2 separate regions of the Homo sapiens genome follow, and region 2 is linked to region 1. Evidence: fine-mapped expression QTL. Tissue or cell type: blood mononuclear cells. Region 1 holds a variant in brackets; the other region holds the start of a gene. All regions are shown on one strand. Distances are from middle to middle.

Region 1 (8,186 bases):
TTTGCAACTAGACAAACACTCAGTCCTTTGCCTCTGTTTTGGCATCTATGAATGGGGCATGTCTTATGCTTAAGGTTTGCAGGTCTTTACTCAGATTCTGTCCTAGTTCAAGGAAAAAACCTGAAGAAAATCGTTTGAGACTATTAGAGCTAAAACCTCATGCTTTTAATTTCTTACAGGAAACAGCCCAGCATGACTTTAAACAAAGTGTCTAAAAGACCAACCTTATATTATTTCTACAACTGCTTTCTCCTCGTTTAATCCATAGCACTACAGACTAACTCTCATTCACTGTCCAACAGAAATAAAATGCAAGTCACGTGAAATTTTATATTTTCTACTAGTGACATATTTTTAAAAGTTAAGCAAAACAAGTGTTTTAACAATATGTTTTATTTAATTCAACATATCCTAAATAAAATTATTTCAACACAGAAGGAACATTTTTAAAATCAGCTTTCCTTTTTTTAAACAGTCTTTATACACATCTCAATTCAGAAGCTAAATTTTCATCGGAAGTATTTGATCTGCATTTATTTAATAAATTTCATTCATTTACAGCTAAAAAGTAGATTTTCATACCCAAATTGTTCCAACATTCTTAAAAGTTCTTTAGTCACACTGGTTCATTTCAGGGGTTTAATAACCACATGTGGCTAGTGGCTTCTATATTGGACAGCACAGCTGTATACTGTCAGCATAACTAGAGTAAAATTTCATCTTGGAACTGACAGTGACAAATGTGTGATTACAGAGGAGACACACCTTGAAGAAACAACAGAGAGCCAACAGAATGGTGAAGAAGGCACGTCTACTCCTGAGGACAAGGAGAGTGGGCAGGAGGGGGTCGACAGTATGGCAGAGGAAGGAACCAGTGATAGTAACACTGGCTCGGAGAGCAACAGTGCAACAGTGGAGGAGCCACCAACAGATCCCATACCAGAAGATGAGAAAAAAGAATAAGTGTTGCCTTGTTTTGTGTGTTCTAAATACTTTTTTTAATGAAAAAATGTTTTTTGGTTTTAATGGTGTTACGTGGTTTGTGTATTAATTTTTTTTCTTGTCCATATCACACCACCAAAGGCTTTTGGACCATTTAGCATCATGAGCCTAATGGCTCAGTCAGTCACCTTTCTTAAGTGTTGTGAAGATGGCTCTTTTCTTTGGATCTTGTTTCTAGCCCTCAACTGCTGAAAGCCTCAGAATTTAGATTAATTGAGAAAACACCCACCTCTTTTAGAGAATTATCCTTTGATGCTGCAGAATCTACTCTTACAATGCCTTCCTACAGCTCACTGGGGTGCTTACCAAAGCCATAGCTTTAAACCTTCCCAGTCCCCATCAGTAGCTTCCTGAAAGTCTCCTCTCTTGTTTACTTCTGCAAAGGGTAGCTTCTTAAAAACGTGATCATGTATGAGTATGTATTTGTTCACTTACCCTTTTTTACTTTTAATCAATGTCAGATACCAAGAGTTGTGTTAAGCTGAGTGTAGTGTGTAACTAACTACACTTGGATCTTACTGATCCAGAAATAGTCCCCATAGTTAGAGTAGTTACTTATGAAGTGGTTATTAAAGTGAACACAGCACATATACATTATCTATACTGCTTTTTGTTATGATTAATACTGGGTATGTTCTGGTAAATCCATCCTTATTGTATAGAAAAAAAATTACTTTTTTACCAGGTTTTCCAAAGACAGAATAGATCACAAAGCTCAAGGAATTTAATATTCTTGTAATGGACTAGATAATTCAAACTGATTAGCCCATTCCAGAAGAAAAACAGCTGGGAATTAAGTTAATCCACTTGAAATTGTTTTACAATAATCAGAACATCCAAACCTCAAGGCTCAGGATCCCATAGACCAGAGCCCACCTTTTTGATAAACTTAGTAAAGTCTTGGAGACTAGAAGCAAGATAGTTTGTGACACATAAGCTTCCCAAAAACTAGAATAGATTTTTACTGAATAGTGGTATATCTGATGGTATATGTTTCTTAAAGGTCCAAATGTAATAAAAAAAAAAATGAAAAAAAGGTCTCAGTGTTTTTAATGCACTACATATTTGTATGCAAGACAAGCATCCAGTTTTTTTCTGTAATGCAGTGACAGTGTGGAATGACCACTCAGCCATTATAAATTTGTGTACTCAGGGCCCTTGTCTCACCCAACTATCTCTATAAACTGCTGCAGTAGCTTATTTGTACAAGACACTTGTGAAAATCAGTTTTCTTACATTATAGTCATTGTCACATATGGAAGTTGGTCTTTGATTCCAAAAGTAAAGGGAATATGTTTCTACATTAACAGGAATATGGAGAAATCTGTAACGTTTGAATTATCTTTGAAAGAATGGCTAAATGATAAATGTTAAGTCCTGTGCCTATATGGAGAGGACTCTGTACCAGCATGAGTTAATTTAAGTGGATTCACTGCTATTCAGTTCATAGCACATTAGTGACTAGGAATGTGTGTTCAGCCTCCTGAGAGAGGAGGGGAGGAAGCTTGATACTGGGTGGAAACAACTCTTGACATCTGTTTCCTTGTGTGTCAAAGAACGAATTTGTATCAAATAGATCTGTTTTGAGCTTTGGCCATTATTTGGCTAAGAACTTCAGCCATCTCATCTCAGACAAATTGGACAGCCTCTTTGATACATTTTCTAGTAGTCAAAATGGGGCAGATGTAGTTTAATATGGGTGGAAAACTGCCCCAGCAAGATACCAGGTTATTTACTGTGGTATCGAAAGCTCTAAGAGAATGGAAGTGGTTCTTTTGCCCGGCTGGAAATAGCAGTGGGAAGACAAGTCTATCCAGACCAAGCCTGTCCATACAACACTGGCAATCAGTTGATGAGGGAATTAAGTCAGATGGGAGACGTCTCAATCTGTCGCCCAGGTTGGAGTGCAGTGGTGGCGATCTCAGCTCACTGCAACCTCCACCTCCCAGGTTCAAGCAATTCTCTCTGCCTCAGCCTCTAGAGCAGCTGGGATTACAGGCTCTCGCCACCATGCCCGGTTAATTTTTGTATTTTTTAGTAGAGATGGGGTTTCACCATGTTAGCCAGGCTGATCTTGAACTCGTGACCTCAGGTGATCCGCCTGCCTCAGTCTCCCAAAGTGCTGGGATTACAGGCGTGAGCCACTGTGCCCGGCCTCAGTTGGGATTTGACAGCTCTGAACCTCAGCAGGGGAAGATTGATGTAAAAATCCACTTGGTCAGAGTGATATATGTAGACTTGATGTTTGAGATGGTTCTCAGTTTAGAGAATGTGGGATATGGTAGAGGTCTTTGTTTTTTTCCCATGTCCCAAAAGGTGCTGGGCAAGTAGCTTGAACTCGAGCCTGTTTTAATTATAAAATAGATCAAACTGCTCTTTCTTGGTGCCCTTACTGCTCCTTGATTTTTAGTGCATTTATTTTGAGTATGAATGCATAAAGTCTGAGGGCCTAAATTTTGTTAATTTTTTTTAACAAATGGGAGAGGGGAATCCTCGATAGTCACCCAATTTTCCTTTTTTTTTGAGACAGTCTGACTGTTGCCCAGGCTGGAGTGTAATGGCGCCATCTCGGCTCACTGCAACATCCAGCTCCTGGGTTTCAGCAATTCTCCTGCCTCAGCCTCCTGAGTAGCTGGGATTACAGGCGCCCGCCACCACGCCCGGCTAATTTTTGTATTTTTAGTAGAGACAGGATTTTGCCATGTTTGCCA[G/A]CCTGGTCTCGAACTCTTGACCTCCTGATCCACCCTCCTCTGCCTCCCAAAGTGCTGGGATTACAGGCGTGAGCCACCGCGCCCAGCCCCATAGTCCCCCAATTTTCTAACAGTTTTAAATTCTGTAACTTCTCCTGTCTGTAAACAAGGCTGTCTTTTCAAATGGCTCTCCTACAGGATGTGATAATTATCTATTCTATAAAGCCGAGGTTTGGAGAGGTAAATAGCTATTTCACATTAACACAATAATGTCAATGCCCTATGGAAAAGATAAAATACTTGGACTATATTTTAAAGGGGAATCTGGGGTCATGCATATTGAAGTTTAACTAGATCCCTCCAGATTTTTGGTTTTGATCCTACACATTTAGATACTAGTTTTGGATTTTAGACAGTTGGTGCTGACAGTGTGAAACTCCTATTGCCTGCAGTTAAATTGAAGCTTTGGTTTCTCGTGAACAGGCAGTGAAGCTGGTATTATACTTTAAGTCCTCATTTCAGAAATAGTTTCCCTCCACCCCCAAGCACTACCACACATGGTCTCCCCACCTGGTTTCAGCTAGTGCATTAGTTTTATCTTGTTTTTTACCGCTGGGCAAACCTTGCTGGAACAACAACTGACTTCATGATTTGCACATTTGGAGGGCTTAACGTCTTTGCAAATGAAAAATCCACTGTACAATAACAAGCTCAAAGGAACTCGGAGCCTTTTTAGAAGAAATCGTGCTGAATTATAATGTGGCTTACTGCAATAATGTTTCTTTGATCAGGATGGAAAGGAAAATACTGAGTTTAGCAGAAAACGATGTCTAAATGTATTTGTAATGATACAATTGTTTATAAATGTTTTACTATTAGGTTGAACCATAAGAAATTGCCAGTGTACAATTTCATCTACAAAATGACTGGCTTAACCTAAATTCTGCATTTTATACTCCAAGAATAAGCTCTTCGTGGCAGCTTTCTAAGTGTGAAATGATGGAACTTTCTATTTGCCAGAATGACCTACACTTCTCTAATAGTTTATCTCATATTGTTAGCCAAACGCTGATTAAAATGCAAATTTCAAACTATTGAGTTTTTAAGAGCCTGATGTTTAAAATACATTTTGGTGAACTTTTAGTTAAACTAGCTCATTTATGTTCACACATTTTCTCATTTAGCACCAGAAAGTTTCTTACAGCTCTTTTGCATGCATTCAGGAGTCAAAAGTATTATATGGGGAGGGGAAATTCCCAAATGATAAATACTCTTTACATAAAACTGAGACAGTAGCTGCAGATAATGGCTCCCTTTGAGGAGCCACTTGAAAGAAAGGAAAGGCTGCCTTAAACTCCTTGACTTTAAGGGGCAGCAAGGACCCTCGGTCAGCCACCTCCACACCCGTCTAGCACTTGGTCCCAGGTCCCCTAAGGTCGTCATGGTTCTGTTTAAATAAATACTTCTAGTCTTGGGGAGCCCATCATGTCTTAAGATAGCTCATTCCTTCTTTAGTTCACTAAAGGTATTTCCTCTCACTGAACTAAAAATCTGTCTTCCTATAATTTCAGCCTCCCTCTTACACAACTTGAAGTCAATTAGAGTACATGTCATCACCTTCCAAGTAAAAGATCTTCAGGTATTTCAAGACATGTGCTCCTTGAGATCCTTTCAGAAGACAATTTCCGTTTTCTTTTTTAGAATTTTTAATTTTTTTAATGTACAGAAAAATTTGGAACGTAGATAGTTTACATTCTCATTGTCCTGTCGTCTCCCCTCCAATGTGTCTCTCCTGGGATAGAAGGACTGTCTCTTTTCAAACATGGTTTTCTCTAATCTGGTAAAGTCGTGTTTCCTCCCCAGTGTATTGCACTTGAGACACAACATCTCCAGATCATGGAAACCATCTGCCTAAAATACAGGGGTGGTCCCACGATGACCTCAAGGTCCTGTACAGCACAGAAGTTTTGTAACTGTACTACGGATTCAAGCTCCATGAAATGAGTGTTGACGAATGTTTTCAGATGTAGCCCAACGGGGAGCACACAGGTTCAGTTCACTGATCTAGTACTTCTCAAACTCGGTCATTTGCATGCCACCATCACAATTTTTACCATTTCTGGGTACAACTTGTGCTATTATTACTTAGCAGCTTTCTTTGAATCAGCTTCTTCCACTTGAATGATTTATTTTAAAGGGAAACTGTATATCAGCATAAATGTTAAAACCATTGTCTTTTGTCAAAAAAGAAAATAACCTTAACGCAAATATTTTAGTAGTTCTCTTTAGGCCTAAATACGTACTATTTAAAAGAGTATTATTTAAGGCCAAGTCTCAGCACTTTGGGAGGCCAAGGCAGGAGGATCGCTTGTGTTCAGAAGTTCAAGACCAGCCTGGGCAACATAGCAAGACCCTGTCTCTATTTTTTAAATAAAGTTTTTTTTTTTCAAAGAACATTATTTAAATGGTCTGTGTACTACCCAAAATCATCCCAAGGATCCCACATGGTGGTCTGGATAACACGCTTAGGAGAAGACAGCACTAATGGGAAGGTCTATCTTCTGCTACCTGCAGTTGCAGGAGATTTGTCTTTTTAGAAACTATCCCCGGGTCAACAGCGGCTTATAACTCAAGGGCAAATTAGTGAAAGTTAATTCCATGATCACCTAATAATAATAAAAGCCAACATTTGTTGAGCACTTACTGTATGCTCATGCACTTTTTATACTTTTTATTTTCTAATCCCTGAAGATAATATTAGAGTAGATCACTTTACCAATGAAGTTTATATTTGTGATCTTGGGCTTGAGTTGATCAATCAACTCTTACAAACCATTTTTCCTGGAGAGAGGAAAATTAGCCTCAGGCTGTTGTACGAGATATTAAATGACATCAAGATTGAACATCTGTGCTAGGGATTTCATCATTGTGGATCAATAATTCAAAAGACTCAAGACAAAAGAATCCACTCGGAGATCAGTGTTCTTGCAATGGGAGATGTATATGGAAAAACTATTCCTTGTGGAATCCTTTCCTTCTTCCCTCCAAAGCTTTCCATACCACCAAAATGAAAAAGTACACACACACACACAAACACACAGACTTAAATCATTTGTAAGCCTACAATAATAAAAAATACTGTGCTATATAGAGAACTACCCTCATGTCTGATGTATGCTGTGTTATGCGTGCATTTTACCCCTGTTGTGGTTTCCTGTCAATCTGTGAGCAGTGGGGAACCTTTTAAAAGACATCCCTGGTTGGGTGTCAAAAATTTCAGGAAGTACCAAATCAGATGGATTTTCTGCAGAATAACTCTCTGACCTTTAACCACCTCTTCCTGATGTGTGCCGTGGATAGATCTTCCTCCTCCTCAAAAAACACACCACGTATTCTGGGACAATAGCTTTAAAATACCTCCTTGAAGCCATCAAATGTCAGTCAGAGTCTAGGTGGCTGTGGTTGTGGTTCTTAGGTGGGTGGCTCTCAGATTGAGCACAGAATCTCCTAGGGAAGCTGTCTGAACCCCACCCAAGACTACTGAATTAGAGGCTACTAAGGAGAAGCCTAGCAGACTAGCAAAGTTTGGAGAATCACTGATTTGGTTTAATCTCTTCATTTTACCAAAGGGGAAACTGAGGCCCCAAAAAAGAGAAGTGAATGACTCATCTAAGATCCAATTGTCTCAGTGCCAGGGCTGGAATTGTTCTTTACAGCTTCTTCCGGGGAGAGCAGAGCCTCAGGATATTTTTAAAAACATGTTCAAGCCTAGTTGGACTGAACTTTGCCAAGAGTTGGACGTTCTTCAGTGTGCGACACATTCTAATGTTATACTTTTTAATGACATATTATGAATATCATCTCTGTTTTAAAGATGGAGAAACTGAGGTTTAGAAAAGTTAAATAACTTGTCCAAGATCACACAGTTAATTTATGATGGAGACAGGATTCCCACTCAGGTCTATCCGACTCCAGTTCTGTGAGTGATAGGTACCCCATCTATGAGATAAAAACTCAAACTGACAGCCAAGTGACCTTTCCCCCTTCTGCAAATCTTTAAAAGCACCGGTGCTTTTCTCATAACCACTCCAGTTCTTAAAATGATTTTTTTAAGAGAGCGAAGGGCTTAGGAGCAAATGGCTTCTCTTAATAGAGCAGTAATAAAGGCTGGTATCCTAATAGTCGTTTTCCAGATATTTGTGCAGATGGAAACATTCACAATGATGACATTCCAACTTGTAAATACTAGCTCTGTGGGTTTCGGAGGGTTTGTTTTGTTTTGTTCTGTTTGAGATAGTTTCGTTCTGTTGCCCAGGCTGGAGTGCAATGGAGTGATCTCAGCTCACTGCAACCTCCGCCTCCTGGGTTCAAGCAATTCTCCTAACTCAGCCTCCCGAGTAGCTGGGACTACAGCACACGTCATCATGCACAGCTAATTCTTGTATTTTTGGTAGAGACGGGATTTTGCCATGATGGCCAGGCTGGTCTCCAACT
Region 2 (8,186 bases), 23 kb before region 1:
CAGATTGCCAATATTTGTGGGCATATGACAAATAAAGGCTCTAAAATAAGGTATATGTGAAAATCAGTACAAGGCTTTCCAAGTTTCCCTCACATGCTTAGACTCTAGACCAGGCTTGGCAACCTTTTCCATCGAAGCCCAGAGAGCAAATATTTTAGGCTTTTCAGGCCATAGGATCCCTGTAACAACTACACAACCCTTCCCTTGTAACCACAAGCAACCAAAGACAATACGTAAATAAATGAAGGTGCTTGTGTCCAAATAAGGGTTTATTACAAAAACAGGAGGCAGCCCAGATAACGGCCTGCAACAATCTCGTTTGGCTACTGTGCCCTAGACTCCCAATATTATCAGTGGATAATAGACCCCACAACCCAGATTCTCCAGCTCTACCCTGTTTTCAACGTTCATCCTTTTCCACACCATGGGGCAACACTCATGTCCCAAATCCTCCAGGTTATTTTGAGGGCAACATAGAGGGTTCTCAAAGCAAACCGTGCTTTTTAAATTCTGTAAAACAGTGTGGATCACTCTGTCCTGGAAAGCTGCTAAACTTCAATATTTCACAACTATTTCCAGCTACAGAAAACAGAATACCCATAACTCCTTCTGCTCTCACAGAAACAGCTGAGAAAATTAGTTTGTTTCATCATGTTGTCTATAATCAGACTTTCATAGGCTATTTGGGTCAAGTAAAGCTTTGCTCTCGCTTTCCCTTGTTTAAGAAAAAAAAAATCCATTATAAAAGCTTCAAAAGAACATACTACAAACTCCATGGCTCAGTGGTTGGTTCATAATCTTTCTTGAGTCACGCACCTCTTTGAAAATCTCATGAAAGAATTAACCTATCAGGAAAAAAGCCCATAAAAATTGAGTATAATTTTAAAGGGTTCATAGATCACTTAGAGCCTATTCATGGACTACTGGGTGTCCAAGGACTTCAGGTTTTTCCTTATTCTGTCTTATTTTCTCCTTTTTTCTCCTTTCTTCCCAGTCCTACCCCTAACTCTGTCTCCATCACCCGTTTCTTCCCACAGAACAATGGAAAGAACTCAAAGACACCTGGACTAGAACCTTAGCTTACTTAGTTTTGGCTTCCCTGTCTTGGGGAAAGAAGAACCCCAAAAAAGTATGAGTAGTGTCAGAGGGGAAAGCAGGCCACGTTTCTGGATCTTGCTGCCAGAATGAAAACTAAGGCCTAAGTTAGGTCTTAATTGGGCCTAAGATTATCTCTGGGGTTAACCACTGGTCCCACGTGAGTGCTCCCAACTACCCTTATAGTTATATTTAGTTTAAATAGTCATATTGATGCTGTATCCCAAATTTTCTGGGAATAATCACAACTCCAAACATCTGTCCTGTAGTTACCATAAATATCCTTCTAAAGGCAAGAGCATATGTTCTGGTGTTTGCTTTGGGGGAAAAAAACTCATAATAAGTAAAGTCCATCTTGCTGGATAATTCACTCTTCAGTTTTAGTTTCTTCAGGACTAGAGAACAGATTATTTTTCTATTATCTCTTGCCTATATCCTTCTTTCTTTTCTTTTTTTTTTTTTTTAGAAAGGGCCTCTGTCACCCAGGGTGGAGTGCAGTGGCATGATCATGGCTCACTGCAGCCTTGACCTCCCAGGCTCAAGCGATCCTCCCACCTCAGCGTCCCAAATAACTGAGACCACAAATGTGCACCACCGCACCTGGCTAATTTTTTTTTTAAGAGATGGGGTCTCCCTATGTTGCCAGGCTGGTGTTTCTTAATTTTTCAAATCTTTGGTAGAGAAAGAACCAAGCGAAGAAAATGAGTCATTCATTTATTTACTCCACAAGTATTGAGCATCTAAATGTGCTGTGTACTGTTCCAGATGTCAAAATCTCCACCCTGATGGGAAAAAAAAGACGGCTGGGTGCGGTGGCTCATGCCTGTAATCCAGCACTTTGGGAGGCCGAGGCGGTGGATCACTTGAGGTCAGGAGTCCAAGACCAGCCTGACCAACATGGTGAAACCTCGTCTCTACTAAAAATACAAAATTAGCAGGGTGTGGTGGCACATGCCGTAATCCCAGCTACTTGGGAGGCTGAGGCAGGAGAATCACTTGAACTCGGGAGACGGAGGTCGTAGTGAGCCAAGATCGCGCCATTGCACTCCAGCCTGGGCAATAAGAGCGAAACTCCGTCTCAAAAAAAAAAAGAAAAGAAGAAGAAAAAGACAAAACAAAATAAATTCATAAGAAGTATAGTATGTTAGGTAGCGACAAGTGCTACAGAAAAAGTAAAGCACAGGCCATGAACAGACACCGGGGGTTGGGGAATGAGATGCAATTTTAAAAAGGTCAGGAAACACCTACTAAGAAGGTGACATCTGAGCAGAAACCCAGTGAGAAAGTGTATCAGACAATGTCACTGCTCCACTTAGGTCCCCTCCTTTCCCTTTTTGCCGTTTTTGGGCCACCCCTTTCCTACTATAGGGTGCTTTATTCTTAACATCCAAAACCTGCAGTTTTTCTTCAGAGGACTGCCTAGAGACAACACACAGCGCCTCCCCAGCACTGCACTCGCCCAATCCTCCCACCATAATCCCAAAGGCAGGGAAGAAACCAGGCTGGAGTTGCTGGACGAAGCCAGAAAAAGAATGTACTGAAATCCCTTCTGAGGCCTTTGTGTATCGTACTTTAATCCTTTACATGTCTCTGATGGATATATACATATATATATATATAATTTTTTTTTTTTTGAGACAGAGTCTCGCTCTCTCGCCCAGGCTGGAGTGCAGTGGCGCCATCTCCGTTCACTGCAAGCTCCGCCTCCCGGGTTCACGCCATTCTCCTGCCTCAGCCTCCCCAATAGCTGGGACCACAGGCGCCCGCCGCCACGCCCGGCTAATTTTGTTTTTGTATTTTTAGTAGGGACGGGGTTTCACCGTGTTAGCCAGGATGGTCTCGATCTCCTGACCTAGTAATCTGCCCGCCTCGGCCTCCCAAAAGAGCTGGGATTACAGGCGTGAATATTTTTTAACAAGCAATTTCATGTACATTTTCTCAAGCACCACTCAAGCTGCCTGTCCACGGGGCAGACGACTTCTCCTTTAGTCTTTCTCTTGAATATGCTCTTCAATTTCATTAATCTCTATTCATGAGTATAACAATATTGGAAAAATTGGACAGAGTATCACTTGTTCCTCGCTTTGCAGACTAGAGATGCTTCTAGTCCCTGTTGGCACACTCAGGATGGGGGCTACGGGAAGCCCAAGAATTCAGCCTCTCTCTAAATGTCAACTGTTTTCCAGTAACCACAGGTCAGGGATCCCATACGTTCATTCTCCCTCCACAGTGACCCACAATATCCATCGGGTGTTTATGTATCCAAAGAAGAGGCTACTCATTCCATCTGGTAAACCAACATACTCATGATTTAGTGGAAAGAGCCCTGGAGTGGCACAGAGGGCTGCCTCAATACACACTTACTGAGCGTCTAACAATGAATGGGTCAAGCCCTTCGTAGGCACTGGCAATGGGAAGATGACCAATACAGACGGCTGAACCTTGCTTTCAAGGCCTTCATAAAGCACTGGAGATGACAAACACGGTCCGATACAAAGGGTCGGGTTCAGGACTCCAACCATTATTATCAAAGAGCCACGGGAATACAAAGGAAGGATTACTAGGGGGGAAGTTCCAGGAGGGCATCACAAAGAGACCTCTGAGCTGGATCCAGAAGGACAGATGAGTTTAAGCTGAAAGTGGGGACGGTCGTTCCCGCTGGTGGGAACCGAAGGAGCCGAGGCAGCGCTGAGGCGGAGACCAGGTGGCACCCGCGGCGCTGCAAGGACACACAAGCTGTTGCGAGGGGGTCAACTCTCCGGGCCTTGGCTTAGAAACCTGGGACGATTACACCCTAAAAGCGCTTGGAAAAACTGCAGAACTCGTGCTGATTTTCGCCAAAGCTACTCCCCCGCCGTGAGGGCAGGAAGCCCTGCGAGGCGCCTGCGAGGACGCAAACGCCGCGAAGCAAGTCCTCCACGCCTCCATCCCAGGTTTAGTGAAGTGTAGACTCTGACCCACAGCCTAAAGGAAAGCAAGACCGGAGTCGGGGAGGGCCCCTCCAGGAGCGGGCTCAGCGGGAGTCTGGCCGAACTGCTTGCTGCCACAGTGGTTCCGCGGCCTCGCGCTGAGCGCCATCCGCCGTCTCCCACCGCGGCCCCCACCGCCCCTCCGCAAGGCTCGGCACCTCCCGCCACTTCCTCGGTCGCTGCGGCGGCTCCGGCTCCTCACAGCCGCTAAACCCAGGCCTATTCTGTGTTAGGTCGGGCCTCCTCGGCCCTCTTCGCCGTGACGAATCAGCGCCCGGCTGGGAAAGTATCAAAATTCGGGGAGTTTTGAGGATCCAATGGGTCCTGAAAAAAATCCCTGAGTGTGCTAAGCATCACCGCATCTTCACTAGAAGGTTAGTTTTTCTAAAGAGGGTCGGGTGGGGCCCGGAAAAAAAAAAAAATTAAGAAGAGTGTGGAAAGTGCGAGTGCGGAAGCTCCGGACGCGAGGGGCGGGGCGAGCGCGGGACAAAGGGAAGCGAAGCCGGAGCTGCGGGCGCTTTTTCTGCCCGCGGGTGAGTGTTTCCAAGTGGGACGGACCGGGTCGGTGGGTGCAAGTCGTGGTGTCCCCGCTTGGCTAGACCCCGAGTTCCCGGGGGTTGCTGGGGTTCAGCCTTGGCCGTGGGGCCAGAGCCAGGAGCCGGTTGAGGCCTCCTTGAGGCCTAGCAGAGCGAGGGTTGGGAGGGAGTCCCATCTGGGGCCCCCTCCTTGGAGGCAAGGCCAGTCCCCCGAAATTGGTCAAAGCACCTGTGAATACCCCGTTTTAGGGGAGTTGCTAGTAAAGTACATTCTCCAAGACAAAGAGAGCGACCTCAGGAAGCCGTGGGCAAGGCAGGTCCGTGGTTCACCCCCCACCCGGGCAGAAGGTTCCCCCATTGGTTCAGGCAGCGACTTGAGGACGAGCAGAGCTCTGAAATAGTTTGGCCTGGGTTTGAAACCCAACTTTGGCACTTCCTGGCTGCATATGGCTTCAGACAAGTTGTTTAAACTTTCCGAGACTCCCTTGTTTCATCTGTAAAATGGGGATAGCTGTACATATAAAGTACTTGTGAGTGTTAAGCGAAATAGTGTCATAAGCGTACCCCGTATAAAGTATTTCTTGAACAAATATTTATCGGGTATTTATTTTTATGCCAGGCACCAAAGATGGATCCAACGGTGGACAAATGTACAAGCCCACTCTTAAATTTTGTATTCTAGCAAAAGAGAGCAATAATTTTAAAGTATTAACAATGAAGTATAACGTACAGGGAGCTTATGTTAGTTGTCAGGGTCCCCTGCAGCGAGGCCTGCTGGATGTTGACAGCTCCCTTAATGTGAGCAGAAAGGAAATCTACACCAGAGTCAAAGGTTTCTGGCTGTTCTTTAAGAGGGAAAGACTCAGGTTGGACCATTGAGAAAATGAGCTGTTTCTTTCCACACCAGGACTCATTCCTTATGCTCCAGGGAATTTCCTTAAAATTAATAATAGAAGCGAAAAATCAGATCTATTCCACATGTTTGGTTGCAAATACCTCCAATAGTCATAGAAGTTTATTTGCCTTCTTTCCAAAGATGAATTTTTGTCTTTTTGTACCTCACTATTTGTGATGTATGTTGATGTAAAGAACAAGCTCACATGTGCCTGGTTATGTTGTGAGCTGGTAATACTAGGAAAAAATTTCCTAAGAATTGAGCTAGGTCCTGACATGGTCCCTCTTTCCAAGTAGCATACAATCTAGCCATATTGATAAGTTAAAAAAAAGTTATAATAATATAGATCTGTGTAAACTGTATAGGAATACAGATGGGGGAGCAGTTAATTCTGCCCAGGTAATGTATCAAGAAAGTTCCCTTGAGGAGAAAAATTTTGAAATGGGCTGTGAATGATGAATAAAAGTTTTTCAGGTAGACTCTCAAAATTTATTCCCAGCATTTATGAAGCTATTTACCATTATAAGAGAATGTGAAGTTCATTGTCATACCAATTACCTTTTGCACTGCTTCCAGGAATAAAATGCTGCCTAATTTTAATAAAAATTGTTATCCCAAAAGCATGATACAGTTGCTGATCAGGGAGCTGTCAGTATCTGGTAGGCCTTGTTGCGTTGGACCCTGATAATACATCACTTTCTATTCTCATCCTTGTATCAGTCTGATGAAATGTTTACATGGCGTCAGCAAAATGTTTTCCATACAAGAGGTAGCTTAGTATCACAAGAAAAAACCTGAAAGTACATTTCTAAATATCCCCAGTACTTTATTTTAGTCATTTAATTCTAATCAACCAAATGACCTATAAGAACTAGTTAAAATACACAAAAGGCTTAATTACTAGGAATTAAGGTGAAGTAATTTTACTCAGAAATACCAATTAAATTACCCTATTCATTAGGAAAACATTCTCGTATGCTTGCTGAGTTTTGATTCTCTTTTTTTTTTCCTTTTTTTTTTATTTTAGTGTCTCAGATTCATTCTTAAGGAACTGAGAACTTAATCTTCCAAAATGTCAAGTAAGTTTCAATTTTTATATTTATCAATCTATGTTAATAAGAGACTAATGCCCTAGCAAGTGGGAATTCCAAAATACTCTCATTTTTTTTTCTTCAAAACAGGACCATTGGTAGTTTTGTTGCATAGTATTATATCTCAGTTGTTTACAAGAAGTTATTTATTTTCTTTCAAACAGAAAGACCATCTTATGCCCCACCTCCCACCCCAGCTCCTGCAACAGTAAGTTTTAATTTTCTTGTTAATGTAATAGCCAACTCTGGCCTTGATACAAAAACCCAGATGTCTTCCAGTGACAGTCACTCAATCATCACAGCAACAGGATGAAATTCAGCTTAAAAGAAAAAAAAAAAAGCACTTCCTACTAAATAAAATAATTATTTGCATCTTTCCTTGAACCAACCCCAACATTTAAAGAAACAGTACTGTAAAACTCCAACCTCCTGTGCTCAGTTTGTTTTGTTTTTTCTTTGTAAATGGGAAATAAGTGAAAGTTTTACCATTTCTTTCTTATTAATCTTCACTATTAAGAGTCTTTAAGTTGTTACTGAGTGAATGCTCATTCTGGCTATTTTGTTAAACCTAACCTTCAACTGGTTATGTTTTTCTCTCCTTTCTTGTCTCTCTCTAAAATTTTCATATTAAACAATAAAGCTTCTGAAACTACTCATTGTAAATATTTTCAAGCTGTTCAAGTAAAGATTTCATTATCTATGGGGCAGATCTTGCTATTGAATCTTATTCCACTCCATAAATTATATTTTATTGGTTTGGAAGTATATATGTTTTAAGTAGTTGTGAACGTGTTTTTTCACCCAGGAAGCTCTGGCCCAGCTTGGTCAGCATGTAAAATAATTTTCCAACCCACAAAACAGATTTAGCAGTAACTGTTCAGGTCTTGCTGAAATGGCTTCCTTGTTGGTTTTTTGGGAGGGGGGGTTTTGTTTGTTTTTAAAAAAACACTGTTAGCATGACCAAATTCTACAAAATTAGTTCTTTAATATTAATCCTTCCTTCCATACCCCCACCACCTAAATTTCAGGCTAGTCTACTTTTCACTACTAATTAGGTCCTTGTGTAACTTAGTTTTCTCCGCTAAAAAACTACTCATATTTACTAACCCTCAGATACATATTTTAGTTACATTTATCAACAATTTGTTTTTCTTTAGTGAGATACTTTAGAAAAGAGATACCGTACCATATGTTCTCATTTCAATTTATGTCATATACAGGCTCTAAAGTTAATTCCAGTAGACTATAAAGTCCTATGCTTGCTTTGTTTTCTTTCTTAAATCGAAGAACATTTGTTATGACCATCTCCATGGCATTCTGCTAGTGGCTATACAGGTGGAGCTGAACAATTGAGATTCTGACCTCAAAGAGCTAACCATGTACTTCAGCTTTGGAAATGGTATAATTATAATGTTTTGCTTTCCATTTTTTTTTTTTTAGTTCCCTTATTTTTATAACATTATTGCCTCATAATGTTGAACAGTGATTCTTATTATTTATGCTACCTTTGAAGGTGTCATTTTGACAAAAATACTGCCTCTGACAATGCATCATCTTGACAAACTTGATTTTTTGAGATTAAAATATTTCAAAAACCAAG

The links. PIP is the estimated chance that this variant, and not a neighbour inherited with it, causes the effect.
Region 2: it holds the start of SMARCE1, and the variant in region 1 is fine-mapped to the expression of SMARCE1 in blood mononuclear cells (TOPMed, PIP above 0.99).

Annotation. Positions count from the first base shown.
Region 1 is chr17:40,621,562-40,629,747 of GRCh38, reverse strand. It overlaps SMARCE1 (SWI/SNF related BAF chromatin remodeling complex subunit E1), which reads left to right. Exons shown (of 11, transcript NM_003079.5): 11 at 755-4,786. The coding sequence ends at 963. Among named protein-coding and RNA genes, the nearest start is that of SMARCE1, 22 kb to the left of the region's middle. RefSeq lists an enhancer at 5,743-5,882. The variant G/A (reference allele first, on the strand shown) is at 3,714.
Region 2 is chr17:40,644,184-40,652,369 of GRCh38, reverse strand. It overlaps SMARCE1 (SWI/SNF related BAF chromatin remodeling complex subunit E1), which reads left to right and starts at 4,552. Exons shown (of 11, transcript NM_003079.5): 1 at 4,552-4,597; 2 at 6,523-6,574; 3 at 6,751-6,794. The coding sequence starts at 6,568. RefSeq lists a silencer at 4,019-4,313.